Regions from separate parts of the Homo sapiens genome. Here all the other regions are reported to be linked to region 3. The links are microRNA targets in miRTarBase. Many come from high-throughput screens and were not tested one by one. Region 3 holds a microRNA gene; each other region holds the end of a gene's coding sequence. Distances are between the middles of the regions.

What was found. The annotated mature microRNA hsa-miR-4446-5p reads AUUUCCCUGCCAUUCCCUUGGC and lies in region 3 at 1,865-1,886, opposite strand. An mRNA with a match to its seed (bases 2 to 7 or 8) in the 3' UTR can be bound and repressed. Matches are read on the target gene's strand: a 7mer-m8 pairs with bases 2 to 8, a 7mer-A1 pairs with bases 2 to 7 and ends in A, and an 8mer does both.
Region 1: the mRNA of ITPKC is a reported target of hsa-miR-4446-5p. Seed matches in the 3' UTR shown: 8mer at 1,450-1,457.
Region 2: miRTarBase lists LMLN as a target of hsa-miR-4446-5p. The part of its 3' UTR that is shown has no 7-base or 8-base seed match.
Region 4: miRTarBase lists ARAP2 as a target of hsa-miR-4446-5p. Seed matches in the 3' UTR shown: 8mer at 845-852.

What each region holds. Positions count from the first base shown.
Region 1 is chr19:40,739,034-40,742,187 of GRCh38, forward strand. ITPKC (inositol-trisphosphate 3-kinase C) reads left to right here. Exons shown (of 7, transcript NM_025194.3): 7 at 324-1,827. The coding sequence ends at 527. It overlaps ACTMAP (actin maturation protease), which reads right to left. Exons shown (of 6, transcript NM_198476.5): 6 at 1,828-3,154. Among named protein-coding and RNA genes, the nearest start is that of ACTMAP, 9.9 kb to the right of the region's middle.
Region 2 is chr3:198,038,424-198,041,576 of GRCh38, forward strand. It overlaps LMLN (leishmanolysin like peptidase), which reads left to right. Exons shown (of 17, transcript NM_001136049.3): 17 at 144-3,153. The coding sequence ends at 244. LMLN-AS1 (LMLN antisense RNA 1) reads right to left here and starts at 1,044. Exons shown (of 4, transcript NR_046669.1): 1 at 1,026-1,044; 2 at 724-801; 3 at 325-435; 4 at 1-240.
Region 3 is chr3:113,593,615-113,596,768 of GRCh38, reverse strand. MIR4446 (microRNA 4446) reads right to left here and starts at 1,893; the gene lies at 1,827-1,893. The region is part of intron 10 of SIDT1 (SID1 transmembrane family member 1); the gene reads right to left.
Region 4 is chr4:36,065,301-36,068,300 of GRCh38, reverse strand. ARAP2 (ArfGAP with RhoGAP domain, ankyrin repeat and PH domain 2) reads left to right here. Exons shown (of 33, transcript NM_015230.4): 33 at 23-2,297. The coding sequence ends at 394. It also overlaps the pseudogene LOC651644. Among named protein-coding and RNA genes, the nearest start is that of ARAP2, 180 kb to the left of the region's middle.

The DNA.
Region 1 (3,154 bases), not on the chromosome of region 3:
TTACACATTGTTTGTTTCTGGAATTTTCCACTTAATATTTTTGGATCGCACTTGACTGAGAGTAACTAAAACCAAAGAAAATGAAACCACGGACTGGGGAGACTAACTGTATTACTCTCACTTTGTATATGAGGACGCAGAACCACAGAGAGGTTAAGACACCTGCCTAAGGCTGCACAGACAGGAGGTGGCACAGCCAGGATATGAATCAGGCAGCCAGGCTCCAGGGTTCATGCTGTCAATCACCCTGCTCTGCTGCCTGTCAGGAAGGGACCTTGGCCAGTGCCTGCTCCTCCCTTAACCTCCCGTCTCTACCCCGGCAGGTGGTAGGCAGCTCCCTCCTCTTCGTGCACGACCACACCGGCCTGGCCAAGGTCTGGATGATAGACTTCGGCAAGACGGTGGCCTTGCCCGACCACCAGACGCTCAGCCACAGGCTGCCCTGGGCTGAGGGCAACCGTGAGGACGGCTACCTCTGGGGCCTGGACAACATGATCTGCCTCCTGCAGGGGCTGGCACAGAGCTGAGCTGCTCAGCCACCATCAGGTTAATTGGATGGCGCCAGTCTGGCTGGAGGAGCCCTGAGATGCCATGGGAGGCCTGAGGTTGGCCACGGGGGAGCTGGCCTCCAGGGACGGGAGAGATTGTGTCATGTGCCACACGAGACCAACGTGGAAAAGTCTGAAGGGCCTTGGGAGACCAGGTAGCACCTGGCCCCATCATGATGCAGGGGTTTTGGGGACCTGGAAGGAAGGTGATGAGGCAGTGAGTCAGAAAAACCAGAACGGGGTCCCCGGATCTGCCGGGAAGGCTTCTGAGGGGCTGCCCTGAGAGCATTCAGTTCACATGTCACAGGGTATGGTGTGACAGGGTGCCTGTGGACACATGAATCACTTCTAACCTGCCTCCCTGTCAGCCTCCAGGCTGCCAGCTGGCTGAGGCCAGGGACTGGGTCAGGCTCATCTGTGGCGCCTCAGAGGGTCAGCATCATTGGTGAACAGATGCAGGCGCTGCTGGACCATCTGGGGAGAGTGACAGTCCATGTCTTCACCAGGGAGCCATTTGAGTGCTGAGCGACAAGAGGCTCAGAGGGCATGACCCCATGGGACTGGATGCGGCCTGAGGGCTGATACCGCTGGGCGGTATCCTGCCCTGCTGTGGCCCTGTGGGATCCTCCGTGTTCCTCGGCGGACTCTGCTGACCTCCTGCAGACCCAAACCACAGCCACATCCCAGCTTCTGTGCCAGCACTGTGACAGTACCTCGCTCCTCTGTGCACCAGATCCGGCCTCAGGACTTACACCTCCTGCCTGACCCCCAGGCTTCTCTCTCCTTTCTCCCAGCAAACTGCAGTGGCAGAAAGGAGGTTCAGAGGCTGGGAAAGTGGGCCTCCCCTTGCAACTCAGAGCTGCTGCACTCAGGAGGGCCCCATCCAATCCCGGGCCCCTGCAGGGAAAAGCGCTGGGTGTGTGTCAGAGGCGCAGGGTGGGTGGGGCTGCCAGCCAGGACCCTGGCCTGCAGCCTGATCCAAACCAAAGACTGTAGAACCCTGGGGTGTGGCTAACGGCCCCTCCAGCACCCATAGCCAGGTCTTCCTGGCCCTTGAGGCTGGGCTGGCGGACAGGCACCTACCTCTTCCTTAAGCTGAAGCTCCCACACTGTCTTCCAGGGCTGAGGAGATGCTCTCCTTTTCTACTGACCATCTTGATACTTATTTATACGAGAGGCAGTTGCTGGACGGGGTAGTACTGGGAAGCAGGAGGCAGAATGGCTCTGCTGAGCCTCCTACCCATGACAACACCCCAATAAACAGAACATTCAGAGCCAATGTCGTAGAGCTTTTTATTTTGCATCTGGAGTGTATTTGGACACGTGGGCTGGGTGGGGTAACAGGATAATGAGCAGTTTGGGAAAGAGGCAGGCTCCAAGCAGGCTGGTTCACTCACTTGGCAGTCACTGGGCGGCTATTCTTGTGCCTGGATGTGTTACAATGCAGGGGACACAGTGGTGAGCAAGGCTGCTCCAAGCCCTGGCTGGGATGGGGGATGCACAGACAGGCTGATCAGGGCTGGGATGGTGGACACGCATCCTCTTTACCCTGATCACTGGTTAGAAATACTGCACTGTGGCCGGGCTCAGTGGCTCACACCTGTAATCCCAGCACTTTGGGAGGCCGAGGCGGGTGGATTACTCAAGGTCAGGAGTTCGAGACCAGCCTGGCCAACATGGCAAAGCCCCGTCTCTACTAAAAATACAAAAAATTAGCCAGGCATGGTGGTGCATGCCTGTAATCCCAGTTACTTGGGGGGCTGAGGCAGGAGAATCACTTGAACCTGGGAAGTGGAGGCTGGAGTGAGCTGAGATCACGCCACCGCACTCCAGCCTGGACGACAGAACGAGACTCCATCTAAAAAAAAAAAAAGCAACAGTGCTCTGTAGTTTCCCTAAATGAGATGGGCTCAGTTAGGGACAGAGAAGTGATCCAGACAGGCCTGTTCCTCCTTCAGAGTGGAGGGGTCAGGTATTCATGAAGCTAGTAATCACACACACTCACTAGAAGTTTGTATAAGTGGACAGGAAAGTTTGTGGTCAGCACCATAATGTTCAGGGAGCCAGGAGACAGCCTGGCTGAGATACTGACTACCTAGCTTGAATCCTGACCTTGCCATGTGCTAGTCATGTGACCTCAGGCCAGTGATTCCACTTCTCCAGGCCTCAGTCTTGCCATCTGTCAAATCGGGTCCATCTAGCACCCCCCTTACAGGGTTGCCAGATCTGCTAACACAGGTAGAGGGGCTGGCACAGGTAACTGCTCCCAGATGGGCTTTAAAACTGTGAAGACATGAGGTGGGGGAGGGGTGTCTTGACTGGGGCTGCAGGACTCTTCCCTGAGGTAGTGATACCTGAGCCCCAATGGAAAAGTTAAGGAGTGATCCGCAGCAGAGGGCTGGGGGTGGGACTCAATGATCCGGGGATTTGAACAACACTTCAGGGATCTAAAAGGCCAGTATGACTAGTAGGTGGCAAGCATGAGGAAGACCTTGGGCTAAGGAGGGGTGAGCTGAGGCTGACGCAGTTCAGTGTCCCTGTCCTGTGAGAAGCAGAGGGCCCAGGCAGGAGGTTCCTCAAATGTCTAGTGAGATGACAGAGGCGGC
Region 2 (3,153 bases), 84 Mb from region 3:
CCTGGGTTTTGCTCTTGATTTAGCTCTCAAGGTGGTCCTTGTTTACTTTTTAATAATCACTGCTCTTCATCTGTCAATATTTAATTGGTATGATTTATCCCAAAATTGTTTATAGAAAGTCAGTTTTTTGTTTTCAACTCTAGATCTTTGTTCCTGTTCCTCGAGCCTGGTGGTCACCCTCTGGCTTCTGCTAGGCAATCTGTTTCCTCTGCTGGCTGGATTTCTTCTGTGTATATGGCACTAGGAATGGAAAAGTGGATCTTCAAGATATTCTTTTATGTTATGTTCTTGTGAACAAAGCACAAAGTTTGAGTGAGTGCCAACCTATGCAGATGGTAGAAGTGGCATTCCTGGCTTTGGCTTGGAAGAATTGACGACCATCAGACCTTGAAGCAGAACTTCACAGCAGCCTGTCCTCATCAGCAACCCAACCACCTTCATCAGCAACCCAACCACCTTCATCAGCAACCCAACCACCTCGTCAGCAACCCAACCACCTCGTCAGCAACCCAACCACCTCGTCAGCAACCCAGCCACCTTCATCAGCAACCCAACCACCTCATCAGCAACCCAGCCACCTTCATCAGCAACCCAACCACCTCATCAGCAAACCAACCACTTTCATCTGCAACCCAACCACTTTCATCAGCAACTCAACACCTTCATCTGCAACCCAACCACCTTCATCAGCAAACCAACCACCTTCTTCAGCAACCCAACCACCTCATCTTGGAGAAGGAGAAGGAACTGCAAGCCACCAAGTCTTCATTTTTCAGGGTTTGTAATCTTCCCAAAGTTTTCCTTTGAAAATAGGATAATGGGTGGAATTTTCAGAGTGATTACATACCTCAACATTTTTATTAACATACAACAATGGGAAAGTTCATCATCCATATACTGCAGTCACTTAAACAACAGCCAATTATTGCAAGATTAGAATTGGAGATCTTGTCCTCAAAAGTATAAATTGTCCTTTGAGTTATAGAAAATAATGGAATTGGGATTTCTACATATCATTATTATACCTATTTTAAATTTAATGGCAGCCAGGCATGGTTCCAGCTACTTGGGAGGCTGAGGCAGGAGGATCGCTTGAGCCCAGGAGTTCAAGGCTGCAGTGAGCTATGATTGCACCACTGTATTCCAGCCTGCACGATAGAGTTAGACCCTGTATCTTAAAAAAAAAAAAATTAATGGCTGGTATATAGTAAACTTAATTCACTGTTCCCATTGTTCTAAAGAATTTTTTTAAATAATGTTTCATTAAATCTTATGATTTAACCGTGCTTGCCCTTTTTGCCAGCTATGTGGCAGTTTACGGCAGAACTGCTGTCAGTGTGCTGGTAGCCCTCTATTCATCCCTCCTCAGAGCCCAGCTTCCAGAACTGCTATCACTGTGCTGGTAGCCCTCTGTATTCATCCCTCTTCAGAGCTCAGCTTCTGGTTGTATTCTCCATGAGTTTAATAATGACATGAAAAAATGTGGAAGCCGAGAGAGTAAAATACTCTGCCCTGTAAAAACATGGAAGACATGCAAACAGAAAAAAAATAATTGTATTGTTTTAGATAATACTTAAGACAACTGTGAAACAACAAAAACACAACTATTCCTTTGTGACCGATGAAGATAAAAAGAAATTCTGGTAAAGACGGGTATGCAGTTTTTTAAAATGGGTTAAGAAATTGTTGCAGAAGAATTTCTAACATCTGAAAATGGTTTTATGTTTAAGAAGGATGGTCTGAATTGTGTACTAATAGCAAGGTATAAGTTTGGTGTAGAGCCTATCCAGTAGCGTCCACTGTACCACTTTTAAGTAAGACTCAGTCCACAGAAGCTGGAAGATTGCCTTCGCTTTAAATATCCTTTACCTTCTGCATTTGACACTCCTCCTGTTACTACATAGATTCCGGTCCCCAGAAGCAATTTTACACTGGTACTAGAGCTTACCAGCCCCATTTAGTAATTTTTAATGGCTAGATGAGGTTTAACAAGAATATGAAAAGAAAAAAGAAAAAATATATTCATGAATGATAGGCGATGCCCATTCTTTCTCTCAAGCTAATGAAGTCCTATGGCATTCTAACCACAACCCTCGGACAGACTCCTCCTATTCCTCCATGGCATTGTAACCACAACCCTCGGACAGACTCCTCCTATTCCTCCATGGCATTGTAACCACAACCCTCGGACAGACTCCTCCTACTCCTCCATGGCATTGTAACCACAACCCTCGGACAGACTCCTCCTACTCCTCCATGGCATTGTAACCACAACCCTCGGACAGACTCCTCCTACTCCTCCATGGCATTGTAACCACAACCCTCGGACAGACTCCTCCTATTCCTCCATGGCATTGTAACCACAACCCTCGGACAGACTCCTCCTATTCCTCCATGGCATTGTAACCACAACCCTCGGACAGACTCCTCCTATTCCTCCATGGCATTGTAACCACAACCCTCGGACAGACTCCTATTCCTCCATGGCATTGTAACCACAACCCTCGGACAGACTCCTCCTATTCCTCCATGGCATTGTAACCACAACCCTCGGACAGACTCCTTCTGTTCCTCCTTTCCTCGTCCTTCCCTGCTTTTCGTCCATTCAGCATATAGCTATTCAGTACTCCATTGAAGAAATTATGCTAAGTGAGCAAAGCAACATAATTACTAAGAATTAATTCTGATTATTTGGCACTAGAGCCAACAGCAACCCCAGCACAGAGGAAAGTCGCTTTTTTTTCAAATGCATAAATTTAAAGTATGTATTTGCATGCAGTTTTAAATGGGAGGTATTTGTCATTGTGAAAAGCTGGGAATCTCAAACATAGTCAACTTAACTAAAAAGAAGCTAATACAGGTTGAGCATTCCTAATCCAAAAATCCAGAATCCAAATTGCTCCAAAATCTGAAACTTTCTGAATGCTGACCTGATACTACAAGTAGAAAATTCCACATACAAGTACTTAACACAAACTTTGTTTCATGCACAAACTACTAAAAATATTGTATAAAATTACCTTCAGGCAGTGTGTGTAGTTATATATGAAACATGAATTTCATGTTTAGACTTGGGTCCATGCCCAAGATACCTCATTAGGTATCTGTAAATATCCGAAATCCAAAAAAAAGTCTGAAATCTGAAACACTTCT
Region 3 (3,154 bases):
TGGGGAGGCTTCATTATTTTTCTCAGCTGGTAACTGAATTTCTGTAGAGGCTCTTTAACAATGATGTGAAATGTGGGGTTTCTCTCTGATAAAGCCAGTGGAGGAAATGGTTTTAGAGCACAGAGCCTTTCTTAGTACCTCTCAGATTCTCACAGATGCCCTGTCTTTGGTATTAAGGATAATTAGACAATACAGGGTCCAGTCATTCATAGTACAGTAAAAAAGTCCCTTCAAGTCCCCTGGAGCAGCTCTTTGCCAACAGTATTTCCATCTCACCCAGGCTCCAGGGTCTAATCTTCTTCTTCATCCCATGAAGTATGAAATACATTTTTTTGCTTTTTATTATAGTTGGAGCTAACATGGAGATTTTCACATACAGCTTAATTAAATCACTTCAGGCATATCAAAGAAAAACAAATGCAGAGTAGCGCACAGATTTTCTGAGTGCATCCTTCCTAACTCCAACAGAGCTGCCACCAATTTGGCAACCTGTAGGGACCTGATTCCATTTCTTCCACTTCAGTCACGTCTAAGGTGAAAGCCTTAGGCTAAGTTCCACAGATATCTAGCTCCACAATGATGTGGGCAGAGACCGTATTAAGTCTAGTGGGATCCTCTTCCCCTTTAAGAAGCTGCTTCTAGCATTTTCTCTGGATATAAGCACCCAAGGCATTTCCTGTAACTCTGAGCTCCATCGAACTTCCTGTGCCCCATGGTCATGCTGATCCTGGCCTTGGGAGAGAAAGACATTTCTGTATCCTTGTTTCTTCCCTGAATGTCTGTCACTAGCTTCCAGATATGGTCCTTACTTGCCTCTGTCTCTTGCTCCTGGTTGATTTCTCTATGCTCTGTTTGAGATGCCTAAAAAAGTCACTGGTTCTTCCCTTGGGCAGTGCTTGTCTTCTGCTCTTGGTTTAAGCATCTAGGTCTTGACTCACCAGTGGTCATGACATTGGGGGTGATGCCATCATTCCCTGTGGCCTCTCTACCTTACAAAGGTTCCTTATTTTCTTCCTATTTCAAGACTTTTGTGTGGTGAATATTCCTATTCCCTACTTCTTACCTAAGCTGGTGTGTTATTTAGGTGTCTTCATGTGTTTAGGTCCATGGTTCTCAAACAGGGGGATGTGGGGAAAGAGTTTTGCCCCCAAAAAGACATTTGGCAATGTCTGGAGGCTTTTTTTTTTTTTGAGACACGGTCTTGCTCTGTCACCTAAGTTGGAGTGCAGTGGTGCGATCTCAGCTCACTGCAGCCCCAACATCCTGGGCTCAAGCGATCCTCCCATAGCAGCCTCCGAAGTAGCTGGAGCACAGGTGCACACCACCACGCCCACCTAATTTTGTTTATTTTTTGTTTTTATGAAGACGAAGTCTTACTATGTTGCCTAGGCTGGTCTCGAACTCCTAGGCCCAAACAATCCTCCAACCTCGGCCTCCCCAAATGCTGGGATTACAGGCATGAGCAACTGCACCAAGCCTGGAGGCATTTTTAGTTGTCCCAAGGAGGGGCAACTCCTAGAATCTAGTGCACGGAAGTGAAGGATGCTATTAAACATCCTATAAGATACAGAATAGCCCCCAACAACAAAGAATTATCTGGCCTATGATGTCAATAATATTGAGTTTGAGAAACTCTGGTCTTAGAGAAGAGGACCTAATCTTAATTCTGAAAGTAGGTTTATCTGATGTGTAGGTAAATCTGTTCTTTGCAGTGACTGGTTTAACAATAAGTGTATGATTCACTCTAGGCCAATGAAACACAAGAAGTTGCTGAGGGCTTCTTAAAAGGTCCTTCCCTCTGGTGCTGCCAGGTGAAGGTGTGAGCCTTGACCCATGTCACTGCCAGCCCTGGGAGTAAATTGAAGCCAAGGGAATGGCAGGGAAATGGACCAGAGCCACTGGACTCATCAATCCTGAAGTACATCTTTTGGCTCTACTTCCAGAGCTAGGAGTCTCTTTCTTGATTAAGCAGGTTTGAGATTTTTTTTTTCTTGTTGCTGTGGTTACCTACAGCCACATGAATCTCAATGATGCATCTTTACTCTTTTTGGTCACTCATTTGTTTCCGCTTACCATCAGAAGGGTACCTCCAGCTCTTAGCTAATTTTCAGAGCCTCCCTGAACCTGGACAATGATCTGGCTCAAGTCCCAGCTTTGTCCACTTATGCTTCAATGTTCAACAGACCCTTCTGAATGCAGAATTCCTTCAATAAATATTATTATAATAAAAAGACTTCACTCATACTATAAAAAATAACAGACTAACCATTCAGAGGCTACCCAATGGGATTCAATCGATTGGATGTAGGCCTAAGTTCAACTAGGCCTAAACTAATCACAAAACTTGGAGGCACAAAACTTTTTTCCTGTAGGAAAAAAGATGACATCCAGAGAGCAGACAAATTCATTTAAACATCTGACGACTAAAAGGGAGAGGAGCATTTAGCACTTTAAAGCCACGAGAGCAGGTGTTCTTTTATAGTCTTTTATATTGACAGCTGAATGTTTATAAAACAAAGTGCTTGGGTGGCTGGAAAAACAGGCATGCTGACATTAAGGAAGACAAACATTAAAAAGAAAAAAGCAAACTCTCCAGCAAAGGGAGCAATGATCCTGCTGGAGGGGGGTAGGGGGTGAGTTAAAGTCTTTCTAAGATTCTGTGGCCTCATTTAAGTGTGGAAAACACACACCTAAACATCTGCTATGTATGACTTAAAAACCAAGTTCCACTTCATATTCCTCTTTAACCAAATTCTTGCTCTATGCCAAATAACCTATGAGCACTGAGTTTAGGTTTTTCAAAAATGAGGACATTTAAATTTTTAATTTTGTTAAAAAGATCAGGTCATTGAATTCTTTTGTTCAAACTCTCAGAGTGGAGGAAAAGGCATAGTACAATTGCTGGATAGTCAATTACTCTGGATTCCCCCAAGTTATTATACTCTTTATTATACTTGCTAGGGTCAAGTATTTCAGTTTTCTAGACACTTAAGAAAGCCTCCATCTTAGTTTGGGAAAAAGTAAACCATGTATCAGAGTTGGCACAATACATTCTTACTGTTGTTCACAAATCAGCTTTGGGATAGGACAGGTATGAACAATTATGTCCTAGAAAAGGTGAAACTTTTAAAAAAGATGAATGGCTGACCAATGA
Region 4 (3,000 bases), not on the chromosome of region 3:
AGACATTTAATTTTATTTTTAGAGTGCAAGAGCAGAACTTGAAAGGCTGCGGCTCAGTGAAAAGTGTGATAAAGAGTCCGTGGACTCTAGCTTAAAGGAGAGAGCTTCCATGGTGGCCCACTGCCTGGAGCACAAGGACGATAAACTTCGAAATCGACCCCGAAAACATCGGAGTTTCAACTGCCTGGAGGACACAGAGCCTGAAGCCCCACTTGGGCAACCAAAAGGCCATAAAGGCCTAAAGACATTGAGGAAGACTGAGGACAGGAATAGCAAAGCTACTTTGGACTCTGATCATAAGTTACCATCAAGGGTAATTGAAGAACTTAATGTGGTTCTACAACGGTCAAGAACCCTTCCAAAAGAATTACAGGATGAGCAGATTTTGAAGTAGGAAATAAAATGAATTGCTCCCCAGATTATTTTTTTAATATTGTATGCAATCTTTATGTGTAACTCCAAAACTGAACTATAAGATAATTCATAAGAATTTGCCTATTGATAGGCAAATTTGTCTATGCTTAGGCATTTAAGGAGCATTTAAAAATATGTATATATGTGACTGAATGTAAGATTAACTTTATTTTGGTCTGAACAAACCTTGTAAAGTTCCATTGTATTAACGTGTGTAAGAAGACATTGGGTTACTTAGGTGGTCAGTCCTTTTAAAGTAGTTGTCTGTTAAGTGGTATAATTTATGAGCAGAAATCTCAAACTGTACTGTATTGTATAAAATGCTGTGTTTAAATGAAGCCTAAGAAACTATCTGTAACATATTTTGCACTTTGAGAAACCTTGTATATTAAATTACCATATGTTTTTAGGTTTACAGAAGTTCTACCTTAGGGAAAAGAAAGGGAAGTAAATTGAAAAAGGGGGGAGAATTTATTGTAGTGGCTGCCTAAAAACCACTGGAGTTTTTAAAAGAAGCAAGGAGTTAAATGTCCTGCAAAACAAGGAAGTGAGCTAAGATTCATTCTAGTTCACTAATGACCAGAACTTGTCAATGAGAAACCACTTGTTAAGAAAAAGTCCAGTGTTTATTTCTCAAGAGTAATATTCGGCCAACAGATGTAAATAATAGCACTAGCCACTCTTATTAATATTTATAGTGTTAGAAAACCAGCCACATTACAGATTCACTACGTTTGAGCTCATTGTTGGTGGCTGCTAAGAGGAAACTTACACTGCATTGGAGAGGTTGTGTACACAGGACCTGGCCTGGATGCTGATTGCACTGTCATTGTATGCAAGCATTTTGTCTTTTTTCAGAATTTCTGACTATACTTTTGGTACGAACAAAATTCATCACCACAGGGTCCTGTTGTTTTGTTTGATTTTTAGATTTTTTTAAATTATTATTAAGGTTGTAATGTTTTTCTCCGAGTTGTCAGAAATAACTGGAAGAATACAATATATGGCCATTATGGAGCCAGGGGCTAGTTGGTGGTTTACTATACATTTGGGGGCTACCTGGTCACATTTAATCTAGGTTTTTTTTTCTTTTTTTAAGTAAAGGTGTGGTCTCTTCCCTGTACTTATGAATAAGGACAAAGCCCTATTTTTGTTTCCACATAAAGATCAGCTACTGAATTGGTGAATTTCCTGACAGACAATGCTATCTAACCATAGTTCATGTTAGGGGAAGCATTTTTCCATCAGTTTCTTTAAAATTGGATTGTCTGGTGAGTTTTGATATTAAACATTATGTAGCTAAGTTTTTTTTTTTTAGCATTTCTTTTTTATTTTTCAATCTATATTCACAGGCCCATACTTCAGTCAGTCCAATCATAGTACAGTGATGTGGTGGTAGATGCTATGAATTTCTTCATTGTAAAATACGGATCATTTGTATTTTGGGGTGATAAAATAGTTCACCATGGGTATGAGATATTTATTCTTTAAATCAAAGTAAATTAGAATTTTTAAAAAGCACAAAACTGCAGGACAGTTTATGAAATAGGTGGCACTATTAGGGAATCTTCCTTTAAAGCAAGAAATCATGTTATTTAGAAAGAAAAACTAATCTTAAACATACTATTTCTAATAAATATTTATATTTTTATGAAATAAAGAGGTATGTGGAAATTAATATTTGGTGATGTTGGACAGTGGAAAAGTATCTAGAGTTTTTACCTGCCTTATCTGAATTCTTCTTGAAACTTGAGCTTAAACTCTAATAGCTGTTTCCCTTTCTATTCTGAACAACTGTCTCCATTTTTCAAGTGTGAGAGATAAGGGCTAATGATGACATCTCATTTATTTTGAGTAAACATTAAAATTGTTTTACAAGTCTACTTGAATGTGACTTTATTATTTTCAGAAGTTGAAGGTTGTTATTGTGAAATAGATCAAATAGATTAGCTTTCTTTTCTTTTTAAAAAAATTTGAATTTAATATATACTTCAAACTGGCTGTATTGTTTTTCCAAACAGGTCACTGTAAGTAGCTTTATTTATTTAAAGACCCACTTGCTGAGAACCAGGCACAATTACAGGCTCTGTGGCCTGTATTGACGAGAAGCTGCTGACCAGCCACATCCCTACAAGATGCATAGTACCACCCCTGGTTTATAGGCATCTCTGCCAGCCTTGCCACACCATGAGAAGGCCAAGGGACTGGCACAAGTGTCTGGCACCTCAGCAGTGCCACTTGGTCATTCATGAGCAGTCCCTCATGTTCAGGAACAGTGCCTGTCACCCAGGCCACTTCAGCTGCATCCACTGTAGGAAGGAGCTGACTGGTGAGGCCCATGAGCTGAAGGGTGAACTCTACTGCCTGCCCTGCATTGACAAGATGCTGTCCCCATTTCTAGGGACTGCAGCCAGCCCATCAAAGGCCACATAGTGAATACACTGGGCAAAGAGTGGTGGCATGCAGAGCTCTTTTCCCTGAGTGTGAGAAGCCATTCCTGGGGCCCTGGCACTATGAGAAGAAGGGCCTGGCCTACTTTGAGATCCACTACAGCCAGCTCTTTGGGACATCTGCTGTAGCTGCAGC